5 separate regions of the Homo sapiens genome follow, and all the other regions are linked to region 5. The links come from fine-mapping of genetic effects on gene expression. A gene starts in region 5. Each other region holds a variant in brackets. All regions are shown on one strand. Distances are from middle to middle.

Region 1 (5,136 bases), 35 kb before region 5:
AGCACTTTGGGAGGCTGAGGCAGGAGGATCACCTGAGGTCAGGAGTTCAAGACCAACCTGGCCAACATGGTGAAACCCCGTCTCTACTAAAAATACAAAATCAGCCGGGCGTGGTGGCGAGCGCCTGTAATCCCAGCTACTCAGGAGGCTGAGACAGGAGAATCACTTGAGCGTGGGAGGCAGAGGTTGCAGTGAGCTGAGATCACACCACTGAACTCCAGCCTGGGTGACAGAGTGAGACTCAGTCTCAATCAATCAATCAATCTATTTGACTGCACAAAACAGTATACTATACTTCTCCATGAACAAAGTCACCATAAACAAAGGCAAGAGATAACTGACAAAACTGAGAGAAAAAATATTTGCAGCTCCTATCACAAACGGCTAATCTCCAATACAGAAAGAGCTCACAGGAATTTTAAAAAGAAAAATATCCAACAGAAAAATGGGCAAAGCCCATTCATAAAAAAGGAACTACAAATGGCTCTCAAATGCATGAAAAGATGCTCCACCTCATCCATCAGGAGCTAATGGCAGATGAGACACACTGAAATGCAGCTTGGTAGCTTATCACCTTGGTGAGGCTGCAGGTAAGCAGGCATTCTTTGCTGATGGGAGTACAAACTGCTACAACCTCCATGGAGGGCGATTTGGCAATACCTATTAAAATTAGAAATGTGCACACCCTTTTACCCACATCTGAACTTTTGACATCCTAGCCTACAAACGCATTTGCACACCTACAAAACGGGATATGCTCCTGATTAGTCAATGCAGCAGGAACCTGAAAACAACTCATGTCCTTCCACTGGGGCCTGTCAAATAAATTATGGAACGCACATATAACAGAACACTATCGCAAAGAAGTAGAATGAGTTCTTTACAAACTGATATGGAAAGATCTCCAAGCTGAGTGAGGAAAACAAGGTTGAGGAGAGATGACCAGCAAGGATCTACGTGCGCCTTGGCCTGTATGTGCAGAGAGAGGGTCCCTAGGAAAGTAGGAACAGAGATCACCCAGGGGAACACTGAGCAGATGGAGAACAGGGAAGGTTGACAGAATTTTCCCTGGGGAAACTACTTAAATCTTTTAGATTCTAAAACACACAAATGCATTTCCTATTCAAAAAGTTAAATTCAAAACAAAAAATCCATAGCAAACTAGAAAATGCTAGCCATCAATAATGCCAATTTAAAAATCAGACATTCAACACTCTGGGCACATTACTGGCCCCATTCTGTATTCCCTATTTCAAAGCACAGTTCCTCATATTACCCCAAGAGCTCTCTTAAAATAACAATGGTCGCCCAGGCAGATTCTCCTCAGAATGTGCTGGGCAGTGGCTTCCAGGATGAGAAACTCAAAAATAGCAATAAAGTCCAATCTAGCTTTGTAGGAGATGTTCCCAGGGCAGGGCTCCAGGGCTTTAGAGCCCCTGGGTCACGCTGCAAACTGTCCTATTGGAGAAGGGCCCTCCCTGATAAATTGTTTGATAGGCCCAGCAGTTTAGAACGGGTCAGACCTAAAAGGCTATGGGTGACAAATATTCAGCAAAGGATTTAAACAGAAGCAGTTCCAGAGTTGTAATTCCACGTCAGAAGCCCCCTTCAGGCTCCTGAATACCACACTCCTGCCATAAGACCACTTTGTGACACCACTGTGGGCTGAAAATTAGCCCAGGTGGATGGCAGCTAGGAGAGCCAAGTCCATCCAGCCACTAGGATGCAGATCCCAAGTGCCACTGTAGGGGCTCATGAGGAGTAGGAACCAGGGAATCTGTGGACTACTGGGAAAGGGTTTTCTCTTGCACCAAGAGAAAAGGAAGGAGGGAGGGAGGGAAGAAAGAGGGCAGAGCACGTGGTGGGTAGGGAAAGGGACACAGTATGGAAAGGCCTCTTGGGCCTGCCTCTGGCTGTGACGTCTGGGGTGGGGGGTGGGGGGCACCAGCCTTGACAGTCACAGGGGAGATCTGCAGAATCTCACAGAGAAGTCCAACTGCTTCTTGACACGAACAAGCACCTGCACAGCCAGCCCCAGCTCTGCACCCCAGGTGCCCGTGCTCCCAGCCGGCTCTCTAGGCAACTGAGGGAGGGGCCCCTGTCTGCAGAGCCTTTGGCAACCATCGTGGCCCACTTCCTCTTCCTGTGTCTCCCCTCCCCCAGCCTTCATTTCCTCCCCCTGCCCTCTCCTTCTGTGTCTCCTGGGGGGGACCTTGCCTGCAGGGACCCCACCCTGCTAAGCTCTGCTACAGACACTCAATGGCACAAACAGCTGCATGTACACTCTTTACAGGGGTGCAGCTTTTACTTTTGGCCTGCACTGGGCTCATCTGACTCTACCAACCCGGAAGACAGGAAAGTGTTGATGTGAAACCCTTGTCAGAGGTGAG[A/G]AACCAAGTGACCTCACCAAGGTAACACACCCAGAAGGGTGGGCCTGAGGCTAGGCTACACCGGGAAGAAAGACATTCTCACAGCCCCTCCCCAGCATGGAACAGGAACACTGCTGCCCACGTTCACGTTCCAGGAGGAGCAAGCAGGGGCACCCACCCACAGTGCGGCGAGGCTACCCTCTGCACCCAGGGGCCCCTGCTGCCCCCACAGCCAGGCTCTACGAGGCCTATTTCACGGCAGGCTTGCCCAGGCTGGGGGCATGTGGGCCTGAGGACCTGTGGGGGACCTCCACGGTCCCCAGCTCCCCTGCAGCAGGAGGCTGCAGCTGAGGAAGGAGCCAGGCAGTTCCCTGGAAGGGCCCAGCGCTACCAGGCAGCGCACTCAAAACAATGGCACTCAGAAGCCCTGGAGGAGCCTCGGCAGGCTCCTCTTCCAGGCCCAGCACCTGCCACCTGGCCGGCTCCAGGTGCACAGCAGGCTCAGTTTTCTCAGGAAAAATGTGGCAAGGTTTCCAGCAGAATATAACGAAACAATGTATTCTTCAGGGTTGGTTTCACAAAGTAAATACATCCGAATTAAAATGAGCTTGTAATTTGGACGACGGGCCTAAAAAACGCCTTTGGTTTTTGAGGGAGCCGAGACAAAACAACAACAACAACAAATTAGACAACGGTCTGTTTTTTCTGAAACAGGTGAACAGTGCCGGGGCTTCTGCTAGGAACCTCCAGACCCCCAGGGAGGAGCTAGAAAGCCCCCAGACCTCTCCTGCAGCAGCCCAGGCCCATGGAGCCACCAGGGGCTCTCGGTCTTGCCCACTAGGAGCAAGTTACCCCTACCCTTTGGGAAAGCCCTTGTGTTCAAAAACCCTCTTGCAGAGAACAGGTGACCTGGCAGCCCCGGGCCCTGTCCCTCAGCCCTGCCCGCAGGTCTAGTAGCCCCCTACATCCTGCTCAGGCTTGTCGCAGCCTAAGTGCGTTGGAGAGGGCCTGAAACAGAGCCCCACTGCCTGCCATGTGGGGAGACCAGTGCTCTGGGGGGCCACCTCTTCTCAGGAGACAAAGCCCACCCTCTTCCCGGCACAGGCCTGCCCGCTGCATGTCCGTGCCCACACCTTCCTCCCTGTATCCTGCTGGCCCTGTTTCCTAAGCCCTTCCCTGTCCTAACCTAGAACAGGGCCCTAACCTTAAGGCAGCTGACCCCAGGGACACCAGCCGGGAAGAAAAGCAGTGCCACACTCTGCACTATCCCACGGCCAGGCCCCCAGAAGCTTCAAGGTTGGAGTGACCCCCTCTGCAACAGCTCTGTACGGGACTCCAAGACCTGAGGCTACCTAGGTCTGCCTGATGCCAAGGGAGGGCTAGCAAGAGCTGGGAGGAGCCACTGGGGCAGGAACCCTGTTCTGTGTCCTACCTGCCTCCCTCCCCCAAGACCACAACATGCGGGGTGGAGGGCTCAGCGCTCCTTGGTGTCATCCCCAAGGTTACTGGAACCAGGCTTCACAATCTGTTGGATGGGGTAGACGAGGGAGAGTAAGCACACGGAGCCAGCCCAGCTGTCTCTCTCGAATGTTCTTCTGAACCACCAATGTGAGCTGCTGATAAACAGCCCCTGGGAACGTGGACAGGGAAGAAAACAGACTACCAAGTGGCTGAGCCCCACCCTCAAATGCACACATGAAATGCATATGCCAGAGCTCTAATTGCAGGAAGGAAACAGAGGTTACCTCAGGAAGATGGGATTTGTGTGTGACTGTCCTTTCTGCATTTCTGCCTTCATCAAATGAATCACTTTGGACAGTCAGAATTAATGCAATAACACTATGTAACAAAGTGGTGTATGTACACACACGTACCTTTCACCCAAGCTCCAGCTCACCACTGGGACTGCTTCCACAGAACCCAGCACCCCAATCCCTAAGAAGGGAATAGCACTAGTTTGCATGAACCAGTACACTGCCTGGAAAGGTTAAAAGGACCACATGCCAGAATTTCATAAAGGTGTTTGCTCTCCTTTTGCTAAGGGTTACAAAACACACTTGAAAATTTCCGTTCTCAAGGTCCCTTTTAAAAACAGAAATAATAGAATACCAATGGTTTCTGCCAACAGAAGGCCAGAAGCCACCTGAGACAAGGGCTCTGGAGCTTCTCTCCTTCACGCACACCCGAGTCACAACCCTTATTGCTCCTCAATGGATAAGTAGGGAGACGTATATCGGCCCCTTGCCACAGAAGCTTCCAGATCATGGATTGTGCAAGTGAAGGCCTTCTCCAGATGAACGGTGCTACCTGTGGACTCATGAGAGCTGAACCCAAAGAACAGACATTTCCATTTCCTTTCCATTGTGAGACCCTCATCACTAGCTGCCTCCCAGGGGAAGCCAGAAGCATCTTCCCTGAGCACGGTAGGGTGACGCATGTCCAGCTGACCCCACTGCCCCCGCCTTTCCTCTGCCATCTTGAAGGGAATGTTCCCTGGCTTCAGGAGCCAGTGTGCGGTTAACATCCTTGTTCTGGGCATCGGGAGGCAATGTGACTGCTTGCGTACCAACACAGCCCTGATGGCTGGTGATAGCCCAGGGGTGACATTCCTATGCACCTCTTCAGATATTTTCTGAAACACAAGGCAAGACAGGAATATGAGGTTGGAATCCACAATTACAGAGCCAGGTTTATTTAGCTGATAAAAATGCTCTTCATTTGAGGCTGATCAAAAGTAAAGGCAATTTGTATCTAAAATACATAAAGA
Region 2 (5,169 bases), 62 kb before region 5:
AAGGGACACAGAAGCCTGATTCAGTAAATCCACCTTCAACTAATAGGAATTCCAAAAGAAAAGAATGTAGAGGGAGGGCAATTAACAATACAAGATTAGAGGAAAGCGTTGCAGACCTAAGGAACAGACCTAAGGAGACATGGGTCTGCAGATGGAGTGCTCCGTGGAATGCAGGATCAAGGAAAAAATGACCTGCCTCTAAAAATATCTGAACAAAAGTGCAGAGCAACAGGGAGTAAGATTGGTTGACAGATTTCGAAGATGGTAAAAATAAAATGTTCACGGCAAAGGCTGAGAACTGCAGTGCATCAGATCCCCATCAGTAGCAATGGTTGTAAGAAGATGATTGGCAAGTAATTTTGAACCTTGTTTTCTATACTAGGCCAAATTATGAATCAAGCATGGGGTAGAAAAAAGATACTGTTAGACCTCCAAGGACTCAAAAAAGCAGAAACCCATCGTCCCATGCATCCTTTCTTGGATAGTTACTTGAGGATGTATTCCAGCAAAGTGAGAAAGAAAGCTAAGAGAAAGACCTGGGATTGACTCTTGAGTGATCCACCAGAGGGTGGTAAAGGGAGTCCGGGGCTGTGCTCCCACTCAGGGACAAGGAGTGGGGGTGCGGATCCATGGGGTAGGAGAGGGCAGGGGAGGTCTTGAGAATAAAAGGGTGGCAAAACTGAGGCCACATCAAAGGCACATTATTATTCTGTTATTAATATTATTCTGTTAATAAAAAGGAAGCAAGGCAAATAAAAGCTATAGGGAAAATGTATATAACAAAATTCAACTTCCACTGTAAAGCAAACTAACATAGGATAGGATTTTCAGTTCCTGAGGGAAGGCAAAATGAGTTCGCCCCATTTGCTCTGGATGCTAAGAATATCTTCCTTGTGTGGTTGGAGACGGTGGTGGTGGTGTTGATGACTTTAGGCCCATAGAGAAAGAAATGTGCCCCTGGCCCAGCGGTTAGCTGTGCAGTGAGTAACATGTAACAGTGACATGCCCAACTGCCTAGGGGTGTAGAGGCTCCCACTGTTGCAGTTCGAATCCACTGGGCTCCACTTTTACTATAGACTAAGCTGCAAAAGTAAAGGCTGAGGAGGATGGTGTTGTGGGACCTAGAGAGAGTGGATAGCAGAGGCCATCCTACTCCCACCTTCCATGAAGGGGAGTCAAGATGCAGACCAAAGGTATGGTAGTAAATATAGGGGAGTAAGAGCTAATGTAAAGTTTCAGAGAGAATCTGCAGAAGAGTTAAAACACTCCTCTAATGTAAACACAGGGGGAGGAGGGAGAAGGTGCAGAGGGTAGAGGGGACTGGAGGTAATTACAGTTGATGCTTGAACAACATAGGGGTTGGGACCGTTGATCCCCTCCCCCATTGAGTCAAGAATCCACATAAAACTTTTGACTCCTCAAAAATTTAACTACTGATAGCCTGTTGACGAGAAGAAGCCTTGCTGATCACATGAACAGATAATTAACACATCTTTTGTATGTGAGATATATTCTGCATTCTTACAATATGGTAAGCTAGAGAAAAGAAAATGTTATTAAGAAAATAATTATAAGAAAGAATATATTTAGTATTCATTAAGTAGAAGTGGATCATTATAAAGGTGTTCGTTCATTCTCATTGTCTTCATGTTGAGTAGGCTGAGGAGGAGAAGAAAGAGGAGAAGCTGATCTTGCTGTCTCAGGGGTGGCAGAGGCAAGAGAAAATTTACATGGAAGTGGACCCACGCAGTTCAAACCCATGTTGTTCAATGGTCAACGGTATTCATCTTTCATATTAGGAAGCCAGTGTATTTTGTCAAATACTCATAAATCACAAAGTAGGAGGACAAGTATTTTATTAACACTGAAGGGAATAACGACAAAAACAAATTAAAAACAGAAGCGATAAAAAGTTTAGTCCCCTAAAAAAAAAAAAAAAGTTTAATCCCAAGGTGGTAGAACTGGTGTGTGTGGGGGGAATGGGTAAAGAGACATTCTTATCATTAGTTTTTTTTTTTTTTTTTTTTTGGGATTTTTTAACCTTGTTCGTATGTATGATTAGAATTCCTGAATTTTAAAAATAAAACCAACAATCAAATTACTTCCAAAGTCCTTGAACATCATGACTCAATACTCCATAAAATAAACATATTTTACTGGTTTTCTTTTTCTTTTTTTTTTTTTTTTTGAGACAGAGTTTCGCTCTTGTCACTCAGGCTGAAATCTTGGCTCACCGCAACCTCCACCTCCTGGGTTCAAGCGATTCTCCTGCCTCAGCCTCCTGAGTAGCTGAGAGGGATTATAGGCACGCACCACCGCACCCGGCTAATTTTGTATTTTTACATGGAGAGACAGGGTTTCTCCATGTTGGTCAGGCTGGTCTTGAACTCCTGACCTCAGGTGATCTGCCCTCCTCAGCCTCCCAAAGTGCTGGGATTACAGGCGTGAGCCACCACACCCAGCCTTTCTGTTTCATTTTTAAAATCATTTTCACTGGCACTTTCTCAGTTTTACAACTGTCACCAACTGTACACAGAGCATGCATTCTATACCCTAGACATGAAGGGAAAACAAACAAACAATCAAACAAACAAACAGTTTCTAATGCTTACCTAAAGTTACAGTGCCAGCTGATGAGAAGAATAATAACCACCCAGGCCCATCATGTTCAGGCACTTCCAGGTACCAGGACAGATGACTTCGACTCCTTCCTGACTCGTGGCAGCATCCTTACCTAGTCTCAGATCAATGAAACCTGTTCTTGTTTTAAAGGCCTCCCAGCAAGGAGCTCAGCCTGTCTCCTCTCCGGCTGAAGCAGTTCTATTTTTATTCCATGCTGTTTGATGGCTCATGTCCAAGCCAGTGGCTGTGCTCCAGGTGCCAGACTCCCTGGCAGCACCCCTATTATGGGACAAAGCTCTGCCTGGTCCAGGCAGCAACCTGGTCACAGCCTGATCACAGGCTGGTCACAGCCCTGTCA[C/T]GGACATCTGTGCACACTTCAATCTGCCCGTTGTAGGGACAGCCTGCAGGCCTGCCTGAACCTGGCCAAGCCCTGATAACATGCAGGAACCACATCTGTGAACCATGTCACAGACTGTCAAATTGTCAAACATTTCACACCTACAGTGAATACAAAGAAAGGAAAAACAAGCCCCACTTTTCCCACCACCCAGTTCTCGTACAGGCAGACCTCAAAGATATTGTGGGTTTGGTTCCAGACCACTGCAATAAAGCAAATATCACAATAAAGTGAGTCACACACATTTTTTGGTTTCCCAGTGCATATAAAAGTTATGTTTAAACTATACTGTAGCCTATTAAGTGTGCAATAGCATTCTGTCTATAAAAATAATGTACATACCTTAATTTAAAAATACTTTTTTTGCTAACAAATGCTAACAATCATCTAAGCCTTCAGCAAGTTTTGGTCTTTTTCCTGCTGGAAGGTCTTGATTCAATGTTGATGGTTGCAGACTGATCAGGGTGGTGGTTGCTGAGGTTTGGGTGGCTGTGGCAATTTCTTCAAATAAGACAACAATGAAGTTTGCCACACCCAATTGACTAGTCTTTTAGTGATGGACTTCTCTGTAGTGTGCAATGCTGATAGCATTTTACCCACGGTAAAACTTCCTCCAAAATTGGAGTCGGTCCTCTCAAACCCTGGCACTGCTTTATCAACTAAGTTTATGGAATATTCTAAATCCTTTGCTGTCATTTCAACAATGTTCACAGCATCTTCACAAGGAGTAGATTCCATCTCAAGAAACCACTGTTTTTGCTCATCCATAAGAAGCAACTCCTCATTCATTCAAGTTTCATCGGAAAGGAGTCTTTTTTCCTGAGCAGTAGATCTCAAAGTGGGCTTAAAAATATTCAGTAAACCATGCTGTAAATAGACGTGCTGTCATCCAGGCTTTGTTCTTCCATTTCTAGAGCATAGGCAGAGTAGATTTAGTGTATTTTTAATGGTCCCAGGATTTTCCGAATGGTAAATTAGCACTGGCTTTAACTTAAAGTCATCAACTGTGTTAGCCTTTAACAAGAGAGCCAGCCTGTCCTTTAAAGCCAGCCATTGACTTATCTCTAGCTTTGAAAGTCCTAGATGGGATCTTCCTCAAATAGAGTCAGTTTCATTTACATTGAAAATCTGTTGTGTAGTAAAGCCACCTTCATCAATGATCTTGGCTAGATCTTCTGGATAACTTGCTGCAGCTTCTATAGCAGCACTTGCTGCTTCATCTTGCACTTTTATGTTGTGGAGATGCCTTCTTTCTTTTTTCTTTTCTTTTTTTTTAAGATGGAGTTTCATTCTTGTTGCCCAAGGTGGAGTGCAATGGCACGATCTCGGCTCACTGCAACCTCCGCCTCCCAGATTCAAGTGATTCTCCTGCTTCAGCCTTTCAAGTAGCTAGGATTACAGGTGCACGCCACCACGCCCAGCTAATTTTTTGTACTTTTAGTAGAAACAGGGTTTCACCGTGTTAGCTAGGCTGGTCTCAAACTCCTGACCTCAGGTGATCCTCCTGCCTTGGTCTCCCAAAATGCTAGGATTACAGGCATGAGCCACTGCGCCCAGCCTAATACTTTCTTTCTTTAAACCTCATGAATAAACCTCTGCTAGCTTCCAACTTTTCTTTTCTAGCTTTGTAGCTTCTCTTAGCCTTTGTAGAATTGAAAGAAAGTTAGGGACCTTGCTCTGAATTAGGCTTTGACTAAAGGGAATGTTGTGGCTGGTTTGATCTTCTATCCAAGCCACTGAAACTTTCTCCATATCAGCAATAAGCCCATTTCACTTTCGTATCATTCATGCATTCACTGGAGTTAACACTTTTAAGTTCCTTCGAGAACATTTCCTTTGCATTCACAATGTGGCTAACTACTTGGCACAGCCTACCTCACCTTTTGAGACTTCCTCACATGGCTTCCTCACTAGCTTAACTATTTCTAGCTTTTGATTTAAAGTGAGAGACCTGTGACTCTTCCCTTCACTTGAACACTTAGAGGCAATTGTAAGGTTATTAATTGGCCTAATTTCGATATTGTGTCTTAGGGAATAGGGAGGCCTGAGGAGAGGGAGAAAGACAGGGAAAGGCAGGTTGGTGGAGCAGTGAGAACACACACATTTATCAATTAAATTTGCCATCTTATATGGAAGTGGTTCATGGCACT
Region 3 (5,149 bases), 27 kb before region 5:
TGATCCCCCAAAATACCGCATGCTGGCTCCATCCTAAATATCCAATTATCACATGGGTGGGAGAAGGGTGCCTGCAGGCGCTCATGTGCCATCATGGGAAGTCAGGAGATAATGCCTAACACTCTTCTACCATCAAGAAGAGCCCCTATGAGCACGTTATCGAGCTGGGAAAGGTAAATACCAAAGGCAGTAGCTGAAGAAGCTGGCAGATGGTGGGGGTGACCTGCTTATCACAATGAACGTACAGAAAGACAGGATCCTTAAGCTATGTGTATTACCACATGCACTACTCTAACACAATTTTTAACATAATTTACAAAATGGGATGGGTATACTGCTCTCGGCAGTCCAGCCTTTCCTTAGAGCATCACTTTCTTCTCCTAGTAGCTCCTCTTCAGAAGCCATTGGAGAGTGCTGGCCCTGCCATCTCCCCAAGGCATGTGGAGATGACACCCTGCCCTTCTGCTCAGGGGAGGTGAGGGACCGTCCACAGGAGACACTTACTGAGCACCTGGCCTCTTCCTCACCTATCTGTGTTACCTTAGTAGCACTGTTGATTGTTTCGGTTGTTGTTGCTTTTGATCTCATAAACACCTGTGTCCTGGTTGCCTTCTTTTTACCTATGACTAGTTATAACTCGAGGCTGAGGGATGGCGAGATGGGCTCCAACACTTCTTTAAATGGTGGCTCCAACCCCAAGCCCGGGGGTTTTAGGGCTGGATCCACACAATTCCCAATACCAAGTCATGTGGGGTGACTTCAGGCTTTGGATTTTTTGCTTCACACTTACTGTTAGCCCAGTATGAAAATTAGACGTATCAGGCTTTCATTTGAAGATGTAAGGCACTGAAATATTTATGGACAAATTGATATTGCATCTGGGATTTCCTTCAAAACAACTGGAGAGGACGGTGGTGGGGGAGGGGCAGAGATAAGACTGCAGGGGGCTAGCAGGTGCTGAAAATGTGGGTGTCCTGAAGATGTGGGCATCTGTCTGAAGTTCTCCAAACAGAAGTTTAAAAACTATTAATATGACCAGGTGCAGTGGCTCACGCCTGTAATCCCAGCACTTTGGGAGGCCAAGGTGGGCAGATCACTTGAAGTCAAGAGTTCAAGACCAGCCCGGCCAACATTTCGGTGAAACCCCATCTCTACTAAAAATACAAAAAATTAGCTGGGTGTGGTGGTGGGTGCCTGTAATCCCAGCTACTTGAGAGGCTGAGGCAGGAGAATTGCTTGAACGCGGGAGGCAGAGGTTGCAGTGAGCTGAGATCGCGCCATTGCACTCCAGCCTGGGCAACAGGAGTGTAACTCTGTCTCAAAAACAAAAACAAAAATTACAAAACTATTAATATATGGACAAGGATTGCAACCCTAGGCCCTGCCTGGAGGCCATTCCTCCTCGCTGGATTTCAGCCCATCCCTCCTCTGGCTCTCCCCAGGCCTGCTCACCAGCACACCACGGTTTGGGGTTTGGTCAGCTGCTTCTCTCCCTGCCCCAGGCAGGCAAAGTCCCATCCTGCAGGCCTGGGCTGATGTCCTGGACTGGACATTGCTGTCAGTCAACTGCAGCCTGACACTCACTGGGAGGGCAGAGCTGTGCCAGGCTCTGGGGCCAAGCTGGGTAGGGATTGGATAGGCCTGAGGCCTCCACACTGACGCTGTATCCAGGGCCTGGCTGTAGTCAAGTGCCACGTCTGACCCCACACTACAACCTGGGTCCTGGAGTCTGAAGGGCTCAGGGGAGTTAGGGACTCTCAGGGGTCTTCAAGCTAGGCAGGGCTGTGGGGGTGTACTTTTTCCCCAGAAGCAGCCTGGTTTCTGTTTAAAAGAAGGAACAGTGAAGTCCTCTTCTCCTCTGAGGCCCATGCCTGCAGTATAGAGTCCTCGGTGAGAGAGGGGAAGGGTGTGGGGGTTGCCTGCCGAGAGCCCCCTGCCCCAGGCTTGGCCACAGCGAGCCACTCCACAGCCCTGCCAGCTCACTGTTGGAACTCTGGCCACAGCCACCACAGCCCCCCTTCCCAGCAGCTATTCTTGGTCTGTGTCTCCCTTTGGGGGGAGGATAAGAGTGGAAATGATCAGAAGCTAAAATTAGCAAGAGGCAAACAATTGAGGCCAGGAATCTGAGGTCAGCTGAGGACAACAGCTTGTTCTCTGCAGCCCCGAAGTGGTTTTATAGCAATAAAGGGAATTGAAAATGAAAACAGATCTGGAAGCAGCCCAAGCCCTGGTGGGACCAGGCCCAACACAGCCAGCCCCAAGTGGGCAGGCCAGATGGCAGGGACTTTGCCAGCCCAGGCCCCCCAACCTGGGGCTCCCCTCTTCACAAGGGGGCCCTCTACAGCCAGGAGGCAACACCCAGAGCACCTGCAGCTACGGTTACAGAACGCCTGGGACAGGTTTCCCACGCACTTAACGTGGGCGTGACTTCCTCTCCAGGGGAGGCCCAGCACAGGCGGCTGTAAACACCCCCAGTAACTACTGGATGACCAGGGCCACAAGCCCCTGCTTTGATACCTCCAGGCACTCCCCCTTTAACAGGCCCCAGCAAAACTCCCTAAGTGACAGACCAGGAAATGAGGCCACAAAGTCAGATGTGGAGCCACCCTTGAGCCCAGCCCCCTGGCCCAGGGTCCCTTCCCTGTCACTACCTCTGCAGTCCCTCCTCCCCTGGAAGGCCCACCCAGAGCAAGCCGCACACTCCAAGGCGGCATCAACAGAGCCCACAGCCTAGGTGGGCTGCATGGTGGCTGCATACAGACGGGGAGGTGGGTCCAGCCTCGTCATGCTCCACGGTCAAGAAACTGCCCTCCCCACAAAAACTCCAAGTAGCCACCCTGGAGGTCCCAATGCCAGTGG[G/T]CTCTGGGTTCTATCTGGTGATGCTCAATCCTAAGGGAACTTGGCTCAGCCTAGGATGCATGGGATTAAATACAGCCTTTTATTAAGTTTTTATTCACTGATCTCTGCCACCTAACAGCTTGCAAATGTCAGAAGAAATAAATCAGCCCAGTGGTCATAATTCAGAGCTGGGAAGCACACAGGAGGCTGGAAATGCACAGACCGGGTTGGTAGACCCAGCCCTGAAGATACTGCTCCTGTCCCCAGGAGAGAGTACATGCTGACAGGCCCTTCCACGGGGCCAGCACAGGGCCAGGAGCCAGAGGCACACCAAGTGGCACCACATACAGACGCTAATCTCAGCAGCTGCTGAGGCTGCTGGCCGACGTCATGGCCCATGGAGAAGGCAGGCATGGAGCCCGTGGCCAGCCCACACCTGGGCCAGGCAGAGCTCACACAGCCTGTCCTTTCTCACTGGTACGGTCAGGTCTGTGCATTCTGAGCGGGACCAAGGGAGCCTGTAGGGCAGACACTGGGACTGAGGGAGGTAGAAACCCCTGAGCGTGGCCTGCAGCAGGCAAGCCTCTGCTGTGAGACAATCTCACCTTTCCCTGGACTGCAAGATCTCAGGACCCGGCATCCAAGGCTGGATCACAAAGCCTCCAAGATCTCAGTGTCCAGGGGAGGCCTATTCGGAACAGTCTGAAGCTCCCAGGTACGGGGCAGCGTGGCGACCCCTCTGTTGTGTAAACTCCAACAGTGACTTTTGTTCACTGCAAAACCCTTTTTTTGTTGTTGTGTGTAAACTCTACTTAAACAGTGACTTCTGTTCACTGCAAAACTCCCCCCGCCTCCCTTTTTTTTTTTTGACACGGAGTCTCACTCTGTTGCTCAGGCTGGAGTGCAGTGGCGTGATCTCAGCTCACTGCAACCTCCACCTCCTGGGTTCAAGCAATTCTCTGCCTCAGCCTCCTCAGTAGCTGGGATTACAGGCGTCCGCCACCACACCCAGCTAATTTTTGTATTTTTAGTAGAGACAGTGTTTCACCATGTTGGCCAGGCCAGTAGTCTTGAACTCCTGACCTCAAGATCTGCCCACCTCAGCCTCCCAAAGTGCTGGGATTATAGGCATGAGCCACCGCGCCCGGTGTGCAAAACCCTTTTAGACATCCAACAGCCACCCGCCCACTCTCCCTGCCAGGGTGCATACCTGGGCGCTCTCATGCCTTGCTTGCGGGTAGCACACTCATCCTTCCTTTCTGAAAAGAAGCAACCTGCCCTGAAAATGCACATTCCTTTGCAGGCTCCTGGGAACTCCCCCTGAAAATAATGAGGTGGACGGCTGTCCCAGGACAGCCAATCACTGGAGCTCTCAGTGCAAGACAAGCGCACACGGGGCAACCACTCAGACCAGGTTAGAAACCAGTCAGTGCCTTGGGGTTATGAGCCTAACAGGATGTTAAAGCAGGAAAATGTAGAACAGAAAATGACTTGTATGGAATGATCCCACGTTTTAACAGTGGTGACTTGTGAGTGGTGGGATTAAAGTTATTGATTTTCCTCTTCATTAATTTTCCTTGATACTTTCCTGTTTCTCAAATCATCCTTAATTAACATGCTTGACTTTCACAAATAGAAATAAAAACAAATGCCAGGCACTCAAATGATGATCTTTTGGCAAGGCAACTTCTTACAACAGGAACACACTTACAAATCTGACCCCAGCCCAGAGCACCAAAAGCAAGTCCATGATACGGGCTGAGAAAAGACTTTCCAACTCAGGTTTCCCAGGCCTTGGCCCAACTCAGAATCTGCGCCAGGTCCAGGGATGGTGGATTTGGGTCATTTTACAAAGCAAGTGGTTCCTGGAGACACTGGGGAACTCTTACTCGGATGTCCATCCACACACTCCCTCCCAGCCTCCCTGCTCTCGCTGTCATCATCATGTTCTTACACAAAGGCCATTAAACATTAGGCTCCTTACTTACTCAAAACTGCTGCTGCCCAGAAGGCGCCTGGGCGAAGAGTGCCAGGCCTGCATTCTGGCCTGGCCATGGGCGCACCTCAAGAGCCTGCTTAGCCTCACCTTCTCCACTGGCATGGCCACCTCTAAGGCCCTTCTCAAGGGCTGTACCCAGACCAAAGCTTCCTTGCGGATCCTTCAAGGTCTGAAAGCTGAGCCAAAGAGCCAGTGCTTGTGCAAGTCCCAGACTTCACCAAAAAAGGGGGTGAAGTTGGGCCAGAGACCACCTTACACGCCAAGCTACTTTCTCTAAATACCCAGTGGATGGAACAGGTACAAAGAACCAAG
Region 4 (5,000 bases), 47 kb before region 5:
AGGCCTTTTATAGGGGAACTCTCCCTTCACTCAGGCAACCTTCACTTTGACATCTCTGCCCCTATGGACCACGAGAACTGAAGTCCCAAAATAAGGGTTTGAGTTTTCACTATTATTTCTATGAGTCCTATGGGTTCCTCAACCCCACCAAAACTGGCAAGCATGGCCATAAACCACAAAAATGGAAGACCCTGAAATAGACGCAGTCTGGGAAAACATTCTGCATGTTTGAAGAAAATGGAGGCTGTTTCAGGAGGGTCCGCCTTGTGTGCCCGCCTCAGTGGAGGCAGCGTTCCAAGGCCCACCACCCTCTTCCACAGGAGTCCCTCACTTCATGATGAAATGGAAACCTGCCCTTGAGGACCCCTGTGAACCGTGCCTGAGATTCATGGGTTTCTCCCTGCCCTTCAAGCGAGATGAGTTTAAGCCGCAGATGATTCAGGAGGGTCTGGCCAGGAGTACCCAGGAGGATTTCTCTCCTGGTGCCCTACCCCCATTTCCCAGTCCAGGCCGGGGCCTAAGGACCGCACCCTGCCATTAAACGAGAACCACTTTGGGAATGAAGACACGCTCTTATGCCAAAAATAGCCAACGCCTGCATATTTCTGTTTTAAGGCAATGTTACCCTTCCATCTATCAGACGGAACAGCCCTGGGTCATTTAAAGGAAAAATTAAATTAAGTGCTCTCTTTGGAAACAGCCAACACCCGCTTCCCTCCCCCACCCCCCGCCCTGCTCTAAAACAAACCAGCTCTTCTTTTTATTCCAAGATGACTAGGTTTAGAGTCCTATCTTTTCCTTCCTATGTGCAGACAGATGTGGAGCTAGAAAATCTCCTTCCGTGACACCCTGGGCAGATCACAAGGACGTCTGACCCCTCCCTGGAGAGCACTTTGCCAGCCTCCCAGGGACGGGCCACTCCCTCTCCCTGCCTTGGGGAACGGTGGACGGTGAGTGCACCAAAGGACTTTGGAATAAAATTCCTGAACCTGGAATGTGAATTCCTGAGACATAAAATGTATTCAGAGTGTGGCTTTCTCTGCCTCACACGAAAACAACTTTGGGAGGGACCTCACTTTGGAACTGGGCATGAAGATCTTTGCACCACAAGCACCCAGGGCTCTCTTCTGTCAAGGTCCCTACCAAATATTCCACTCTCTCTCCCAGACCCAATGCAAGCAGGGAGGTCAGAGAGCCCCAACACAGCATGGCAGCCAGAGGGACCAGCTCCGCATCCAACCAGAGTGGAGGTGACCCTCTCCCTGCCAGTTCCCACCACAGCAGAAACAATGCCACTGCCCAATTTAGGGTCCATCGGTCTACCTAGAAGTCACCACCACGCTGTCGGCCAATCCCAGCTGACACACAGTGGTAAGAAGCGGGCACCTGACGGCATACTGTGCCTGAGCAGCTGCTGTGGACAGAGCGTACCTGTCCACTCTGGAGCCAGCCAAAACAGTGACCATCAGCTGTGGGCAGTGGCTAGGCCTGGGTCCTGGGTTTGTGCTGCACCCCATAGCATGGCAGGGCTGAGTAGAAGCAGGATGGCCACAACCAAGGCACGCTAGGCCCAGGAAGCCCATCTGTGGCCCTCTGAGGTCCCAGGGCCGTTCCTTTGCATCAAAATAGGTACTCATCAAAACAGGTATCTCTGGCAAGATACCCTGAGTCCACCCCAATCCCCCCACCCCCCCCAACACACGCGTGTGTGCTCACGCGCGCACACACCCACACGCACGCACACACTCTGTCCTGGGCCCTTGTATTTACAGGCCTCAACTCTCAGGAGGAAGGGAAGGTGATACCTGGGCCACAAGCCTGGGTCAACACTCCAGCCATCTGCAGAGGAGTTTGCTGGACCACGGCTTGACTGACCCCCGCCCAGGGCTCGAATCCCAGCCCAGGACCCAGCTCTCTGCTCCTCCTCTCCTGCCAGGAGAAGGCCGGTGATGGGGCACTGGAGCAGCCCCACCAGCTGGGTGTGGCCTGGAGCCTCCAGGCAGGACAAGGAGAAGCAGGAGGAAAAGGGAGGAGGAGTCCAGGGGAAACGGAGAGGCTGGAGGTTTGCTAAGTCTGAGTTGGGGACATGGTGGGTCTGAGAAAAGTGTTGCCCGCAACTTTCTATCTGGCATTCCCTGCGGAGGAAATAGAATGCGCGCTCTCCGACAGCATTTCCTGTAACATCCGCGCCACTCCTGAAAAGGTCCAAGTCACAATGTTCCGGTCTCTTGCTACAGAATGGTCTCTGTGAAGCATGGTGCGCTGCCACATGCACAGCCGCTCACACAGACCCTCTGATGAGGAGGCCCCATGACCTGCCCACTGTTTCCAACAAAAGTGCCC[G/A]TGCGGGCAAACTCGGAACTGGATGTGCCACCAGGAATTTCTAACATCTTTTTAGAAGACCAGAATTCCCCATCAGAGGCCCAGGTATAGTAGTGACAGGGTCCTGCATGCCTTCTGCTGGGACACGGAGAAGCGGAGTCCTGGCAGGTGTGACCCCGGCCCCTGCCTCGGAGGTCGGACGGTGCAGTGCTACGCTCAGCCAGGGCTGGCATCTCTGCTTCCAGTGCTCCCTAGCGCCGTAGGAGAGGGCTCCTGAAGGCGGGGTGTGAGGCAGGCAGGGTGCAGAGGGCTGAAGGCCCCCTCCACTATCCCCAAGGTGGAGTGCTCCTCCAGCCAGGGACAGCTTTAAGGCATCCCTCTGCAGGGGCCTGTCTCAGAATCAGCTGCGTTGCAAGCCCAGCCAGGCTCGTTGGGCAGAGGCCAGAGACTGGGTTGGGGGCTGGGCAGGAAGAGGTCAGGCCAGCTGCTTAGGAATCTGCCCTGGAGGCACAAACGTCAGTGAGCACATCTGCTCCCAACAGACCCACAGGCTGGCCAGCCAGCCAGACGCTGAGCTCCACCAGACTGGCTGGCCTGCTCTGTCCCCAGCGTGTTCCCGAACCTAACAGAAAACTCCAGAGTGCAAATCTATGTACAGAGTAAGGCGGCAGGAAGGGGTGTCCTCACTGACCTCGTGAAACGTGTCCATCCCTGAGAAAGGGGGTTCAACAACGCTGAATCTCAACTTTGTGGGTGTATCTATTGTGCAATTTGGTGGGTGGTGTTTTTTGAAATTTTTGTGTTTTTTTTGTTTTTTTAACAAATTTACTTTGACACCTGAGGTGAAAAAAATTGTTTTTTCGTGGACTTTGCATCAAGTTCTCTCTCTTCTTTCTTATTACAAAAGGAAAGGCCAGGGACTCACGAGGGGGTGGGAGCGGCTGCTCATGGCTGTGGCGGGCTCAGGGCGAGCTGGCCGGGCTGATGGTGGGGCTGCTGGCGTCGGAGCGGCTGTAGTCGCTGAGGGAGCCGGTCCGCGAGCCCCCGCCGCGCCGCTGCAGCATTCCCGGGTGGAAGTTGGCGTGGCGGCGCGCGTGCTTGGTCAGGTGGTCGCTGCGCATGAAGCGCTTCTCGCAGATGGGGCAGCTGAACTTCTTCTCGCCCGTGTGTGTGCGGTAGTGCCGCGCCAGCTCGTCGGAGCGCGCGAACTTCTTGTTGCAGTCCTGCCAGCTGCAGGCGAAGGGCCTCTCACCTGTGGGCACAGGGGCAGAGCATCAGTATCCGCACCTGGCCCCGCCTTCACACCCTCTCTGGGGAAGGGCCCGCAACACCCAACACCCTGGTCTCTCAACACCCCTCCCACATGCCCCACCTCCAAGAGCTTCTGTGACAAATCCATCAAGGCAGAGATGAAGGTGGGCCCCTGCCCTCCCGCCCACGCCTGGGATGGAGGCAGAGGACACGGCCTAGGATAAAACAGCATTTCAGGTGCTGAAGCTGCAGGGCCCATGGGTAGGTACAGGTCAGGGCCCCAGGCTCCTGGCAGTGGACCCCCTAAGTACACCACAAAGCAGGCTGCACTACACACCCATGCCGGGCCAGTGGTCTCCAACGCCTGGGGGTTGCAGGCCCATGCCCTGGCTTCACAGGCCTCCCGGAGTCCAGCCGCCCATGCTGCTCCATGGGAGCCACACTCTGCACCCCTGCAGGGCAGGAAGGCAATTCCCATTCTGACCCTCCTCAGTCTAGTCTGTCACATGAGAGGGTCAGCGTAGGTGAGTTCCGGGGCCTGGAATTCTACAACCAGTCTGCTGCTCCTTCTCTCACAAAAGTCCCAAAGTGACCAACCAGGGACGGCTGGCAGAGCAGGAGAATGAAACAGCCTCTTGCAGACCCAAGTGTGGTGACAGACAAGGGCAGCAACCCAGAGCACCCCATTATAGGGGCCTGTGCCGGTAGGGAGGAGGCAGAACACAGTGGGGTGGGAGGTAATGAAGGTTGGCTACGGTCAGGATGCTGCTCCCTCCTTCCCATCCCTCACTCGGAGCGGGAGACAGGCCAGCATTTACCCAGGCAAACTCAACACACAAAACTCTGAATCACAAAAATGACATCAACTGCTCAGGAAGAACCAGGGTGGGGGGCTCTGGCACCCCAGAAACGAGCCCTTCTTGTATTAGGGGTGGCCGCAGGGCTGCCCTTCCTACACGGTCTCATCCCCTCTCACCCCCATACAGACCCTAAAGTGACTGCCAGTCACTGAAGCTGGTCTACCCATGTTCAACAGAGGAAACCCACTCACCCACCCACCTTAAACACAAGCAGATACCCAGGGATGGCCAGACAGCCAGGGAGAACCAGCAGCATGGAAAAGAAAGGCCAAGCGCAATGCAACCACCAACTCTAGAGGAAAAGAGTGAAGCCAGGAAAGAGAAGAAAATTTTAACTTGAAATTTCTGATTAGTATTCTCTGAGGAATTTGAGATGAAATTTGATGCAAAAGCAAAGAGGATACCATACAAAGAAGTTCAGAGAGCAAAAACGGCCAGGCGCGGTGGCTCATGCCTATAATCTCAGCACTTTGGGAGGCTGAGGCGGGTGGATCACTTGAGATCAGGGGTTTGAGACCAGCCTGGCCAACATGGTGAAACCCCGTCTCTACTAAAAATACAAAAATT
Region 5 (5,000 bases):
GTGAACTATTTTACAAATGAGAGACCACCACCCTTGGTCACAAGACAACAGTATTCAGTAGACGGGTTTTGAGCCTGCCCCCAAGGTAGAAGAGGTGAGTGTCACAGAAGAACTCACGTGAGCTCAGAGGAAGCATACAATTCTTTACACCAAAATGGGGAAGGATTGCCGTCCATTAAAATATTTTCATCTTTATGTTAAAAACGAAACAAAAAGGGGGGAGGGAACCGCCACAGATGAATCAACTACAAAGTATCGGGCCGCGCGTGGGAACTGTTGCCGCTGGGCTGGCGGGGGCGGGCGGTGATCCCCAGGCTGGAGGCTCAGCGCCCGCCCTGGTGCAGGTGCCGCCCGCCCCGCACCGGCCCAGGGCAGGTGAGAGGTGGGCAGGCGAGAGGGCAGCACGGAGGATGGGCAGCGGCCAGGGCATTCCTTTCCGGAGAGAGCCTCGAGGCCGAGGAGCCTAGGGCCGGGCGCGCCCCCGCCGGGCCGGATGGGCGGGGGCTCCCACAAAGAGCCGCAGGCGGGGAGCGGGACCCGGGACCGCCCCCCGCATCGCCAAGCGCCGCCGCTGACTTTGGTTACGACAAATTAAACCTTAGAGCGCTGGAAAAATTACAGGAAGAAGAGAGCGAAGAATGTGCCGAGTGGCGAAGGAAACCTTGTCCCTGCGTGAACTTCGCCCGCCGCGCGCCGGGGCCGGCCCCTCCCCTCCTGAGCGCGCGCCCGGGCAGCGGGGGAGGAAACGAGGAGGGACCCCGGAGAGCGTCCCCTGCCCCCGCTCCGGGCGCCCCACCGTCACGAGTGCCGCCTGCGGTCCACACCCAGGCCGCCCGCACCTGCCCGCGCCGCCTCCCGGCCGGGAGGGGTCCCCGCCCCCAGCCCAGATGACTATATCCGCCCCCGCGGCCCCACCCGAGCGCGCCCGGGGAGGGGGCGTGCCCGGCGGGGGCGCGGTCGCCTGGCGGGCGCCGGCTCCGAGAGCCAAGACCCGCCTCGCGCGACGCGCGGGGCCAGCCGCGGGTCGGAGCGGCAGGGGAAGGGGCGAGGCCCCGGGCGTTCCGGCCCGCCCGGCCCCCACCTCGCGCCCCATCGGGGACTCCGGGGGCGTGGTCGGGCAGCTCGCGCCGACCCCGTCCGCGCGATCCGGGCGCCCGCGCCGCCCCACTGACCTGTGTGAGTTCTCAGGTGCGCCTTGAGGTGCGAAGATTTCCCGTAAACTTTCTCGCAGCCCGCGTAGTGGCACTTGTGCTTCCTCTGCGGGGACTCGAGGTCGGCGCGACTTCGGCCCCGCCGGACCCTTTGTCTGAGGCCGGGCTCGCCGCTCCCCGCGGGCCCCGGCTCCCGCTCGGGCTCCAGCCCCGCCTCGGGCTCCGGCTCGCTCCACGCCGGGCTGGGGGGCGCGGCCGCCGCGCCTTCGGCGCCGGGGGAGGTGGGCTCGGGGGCGGGCGGCGGCAGGCGGCAGGGGGTCCTCGCCTTCCGGGCCGCGGCGCCCTCCCTGCGCTCCGCCGGGGCGGGCGCCGGCGCTTGCTGGTTGAGGTCCGCTAGGATCCGCGCCACCACGAAGAGCGAGGCGCTGTCCTTACCGTCGCGGCGCTCCTCGACGCGGGGCAGCGTGGGGGTGGCGGCCACGGCCGCGCCCTCGGGCCGGGACTCCGGCCCCTCCCGCGGCCCGTGCACGACCGCGCGGCTCGACATGGACACGAGGCACTCGGCGGCGAAGTGGTCCACATAGGCGGCGGCTGCCATGCTGCGGGCTGGGGCCGGCGGCGGTGCTCTTGCTGCGAGTCGTCAGCCGCGCATCCGCACCCACGGCCTCGGGAGAGCGGGCGGGGGGCGGGGGCGCGGCGCGCCCTCTCCTCGGGCTGGGCTGGGCTGGGCTGGGCGCGCAGCCGCCTGTGCCGTCACCCGCGCGGCTCCGCGTCTGCGAGGCGCCGGCCCGGCCGGGCACCGAAGAGTGAGCGCATGGGGCGCGCGGGCGACTGGGGTCCCCGCGCGGCGTCAGGGGCGGCCGGTTCTAAGGATGCCGAGCGGCAACGTTAGGGACCACCTCGCCAAGTCGCGGCCGCAGCTTCGCCGCGCATTGTGGCAGGCGGGACAGCTGCCGTGCGCGCCGCGGCTCCGTGTGGGCGGCCCGGCCCCGGGGGTGGGCGGGGCCGGGGCCACATCTGGACCCGACGTCAGCCCCCAGCCACATCCTGGCGGCGCAGGTTACAGGCGGCGGCGGCTGCGGGGAGCTGCGCGCGCGGAGGGGGCGGGGACCCCAGAGCGCGCACCGGCGGAACGGAGCGGTCGCGTGCCCGCGCCTGGGCAAGGGGGCGTGACCGAGGGCCGGGACAGACGCCATTGGTCCGTGAGTGCACGGCCAGGCCAATCCGAGCCGTTAGAGGGGCGTGCCCGGTCCCGGGCCCTGCGCGCGCCAGTGGGCGTGTCCCCTGGGCCGGTGGGAGGAGGGGCGGAAACTGGAGCGGGGCGCGCTGACGCATGACGTCCGGGGGCGGCGGGCCGGGTAGTCGCGGCGCGGAGCGGCTGCTTGTACCCCCCGCGGCGGGGACACAGCGAGCACTTCTCTGCCGGAGCTTTTATGTGGTGACAGCCTTGGCCCCCGGCATGGAGGGGAGCGGTTTCTGGAGGGCGCCATTTGTTCCTCCCGCGATGGGCGCCGGCGGGGAGGCGTGTCTGCCCGGCCGGGCGCGGGGCTGCCTAGGGGCGGAACGCACTCGCGCCGCGCCCTCCGCCGCCGGCTTGCCGGGTGGCCGCGCCTAGAGCCTCAGGCCGCTCGCCCTCCCCACGCCCCTGCCTTGCAGAGCTCCGGGAGTCCGGGCGGGGCAGCTCCCGCGGGAGGGACAGACTCGGGCTCGTTCCTGGGGTCCGGGGTGCGGCCGCGCTGCCCTTCAGCTCGGGTCAGCCCGAGCAGGACTGGCCTCGGCTGGCGGTGAGCCTGGCAGCCCGGGTGGCGCGCCCACCGCGGCCTGTGCCTCCAGAAGCGAACTACGTGCCAGGGCGGCCGGCGCCGCTGCTGAGGGAACGCGGGGCCCCTTCCTCCCCATCCCGCCGCAGGCCCGCTGCCAACTCTTCTAGGCTGCCCCTCTCCCACCGCGGTCGGGGGGGCTTCAAACGCCACCAGCTGCGAGGACCCCGCCCACCGCGCCCCACCCGCCCGCTGTCTGGGCCTCCCGGAGGAAATGCTCGGCTGCGCCCAGCCCGCGCCTCCCAGCCCGGGCTGGGCCACCTTGCCCTTGACTCTCACGGTAACCCCTACCCCAGCCCGCGGCCCCAGCCATTCTCCAGGCCTGGGCCGTCCTCGGAGACGCCGGTGAATAACTTCCCACCGCCGCGGAACCGGGCTCAGCAAACCCCCTACTGCCTCGCCCCGTTGCATTGTGCTTAATGGACGTTCGAAGGAGTCAGCCACCCTTGCTGTGTTCTGAGAGGAGCCTGGAGAATGAAGGAGCCCGGGCACTCACCCTCAGTGGACCCTCGCAGTGGGAGGGGGGTGTCATTCTTCTCTCAGAATTAAGGTTAATAGCCGAGTTCGAGTTCTCACCAAATTAATTTGGGGTTGGAGCTCAGTAAGACTGGTTTTCAGGTAACCGACGAGGGACCGAAACGGCCATTCTGGGTTGCGTGTTACGGTGAACAGCAAACTGCATGGATGTTTGAGCACCCTCAGTATCTGTAACTAAAACCCTGAAATGCGGTCTCGCTGATTGAGTTGCTACCCTCTGGGGAGACTAAAGGTGCTGGACTGGGTCTGGTCCCTTTAGGAGGGTCTGTGCTTGGTAGAAAGTAATCGTGTTTCTTCCAGGCAGATTGTGTTGATGACATTTAATAAGAGACGTGTGTCCTGACCAAGTAATGATTCGGAATGTTCCTCTATTCCCACCACATGTCACAATTAGTCACTTCTTAAGGAAGGAGTGGTCCTACACCAGCTTATCAGCCACCCATACCCTCCTGGCCCCTTTCCAGCCAGCAGAATTCTCCCCAATCTTCAAGGTGCCACGTCTCCCCACTGGGTCACCCCAGCCGGCATACACAATGGTAGGCCGTCTAGAGTCTGCACTATTCTAGTATTAGGCTACTACAGCCATGAACAAAACAGGCCTGCCTTGGGTGAGGGGATGCCCTACGTGGTCAAGGGTCCTCTGCATTGATGCACCCCCCTAAGAGTTTTCCAAGAATGTGGGTCCCAAAGAATTTTGACTGTGCTCTGTGGCATTCTGTATAGAAAACTGAGCTCCTTGGCTGGTTTCTCAAAAATCCACTCATTTGATGATTGTCGTGGTGTTCACTGACTTTATCCCAAACCTACATGGAAGGGTCTTCCGGACAGACAGCTCTTCCCCAAAGAAAATCTCCTCTTAGCTAAGAGTCCATGTTTTCTTTTCTAAGTAAGATTTTGACAGAGATGGCATATGTATATGTGAGGGCTGGGTCGTCTCGTTTCAAATGGAAGCAACAGAAAAGCAGAGCAGGTGTGTCTGGGGCGTATAGAGACTGAAGGCTGAAAGGGTGGTTGAGTTTCTGGGTAAAGTTGGTGGATGGTTAGTATGTATTGACTTTAACTTCCTTCTGGAGCATTTGTTAGAAGGCAGAAATCCACAAAGACAGGGAGAACAAGAGAGGAAGTAACAGCAACGCAGTTCTTGAAGCTAAAATACTTAGCAGATCCAAGAAAATGAAACCCTGAGATAGTAGCTAGGAAGGAAAGCTAAGAACATACTCCATGGAATCCCCCAGAAGGTTCACTAATGGGTGGCACTACGTACCTCTGAATGTGAGAGTAAACGGGGGTGAAAATAAGATTGGCAGAACGTCAGCTTGAGGAGCACTCAGATGCCCATATCTGCACCCCAATTTCATGCAGCCTGACAACTGCCCCTTCCTTGTTCTGACGAAAGGCTGGATATTTATGACCTGAAAAAACTAAAAGGCAGCGTCTTGGGTAGGTGGACACCAGGCACAATTAAGGACAGAGGTACGGTAATAGGATCAGG

What was found. PIP is the estimated chance that this variant, and not a neighbour inherited with it, causes the effect.
Region 1: its variant is the best candidate, but not a certain one, in a credible set for the expression of KLF13 in whole blood (TOPMed, PIP 0.66).
Region 2: its variant is the best candidate, but not a certain one, in a credible set for the expression of KLF13 in whole blood (TOPMed, PIP 0.81).
Region 3: its variant is the best candidate, but not a certain one, in a credible set for the expression of KLF13 in whole blood (INTERVAL, PIP 0.81).
Region 4: its variant is the best candidate, but not a certain one, in a credible set for the expression of KLF13 in whole blood (INTERVAL, PIP 0.74).

The regions. Positions count from the first base shown.
Region 1 is chr15:31,358,618-31,363,753 of GRCh38, reverse strand. The region is part of intron 1 of KLF13 (KLF transcription factor 13); the gene reads right to left. Among named protein-coding and RNA genes, the nearest start is that of KLF13, 34 kb to the right of the region's middle. The variant A/G (reference allele first, on the strand shown) is at 2,391.
Region 2 is chr15:31,385,625-31,390,793 of GRCh38, reverse strand. It overlaps a transcript of KLF13 not described here. Among named protein-coding and RNA genes, the nearest start is that of KLF13, 61 kb to the right of the region's middle. The variant C/T (reference allele first, on the strand shown) is at 2,981.
Region 3 is chr15:31,350,569-31,355,717 of GRCh38, reverse strand. All of the region lies in intron 1 of KLF13 (KLF transcription factor 13), which reads right to left. Among named protein-coding and RNA genes, the nearest start is that of KLF13, 26 kb to the right of the region's middle. The variant G/T (reference allele first, on the strand shown) is at 2,860.
Region 4 is chr15:31,370,584-31,375,583 of GRCh38, reverse strand. KLF13 (KLF transcription factor 13) reads right to left here. Exons shown (of 2, transcript NM_015995.4): 2 at 1-3,574. The coding sequence ends at 3,285. Among named protein-coding and RNA genes, the nearest start is that of KLF13, 46 kb to the right of the region's middle. RefSeq lists an enhancer at 767-1,754. The variant G/A (reference allele first, on the strand shown) is at 2,344.
Region 5 is chr15:31,323,962-31,328,961 of GRCh38, reverse strand. It overlaps KLF13 (KLF transcription factor 13), which reads right to left and starts at 2,127. Exons shown (of 2, transcript NM_015995.4): 1 at 1,173-2,127. The coding sequence starts at 1,749. RefSeq lists an enhancer at 2,405-2,918 and a promoter at 1,946-3,002.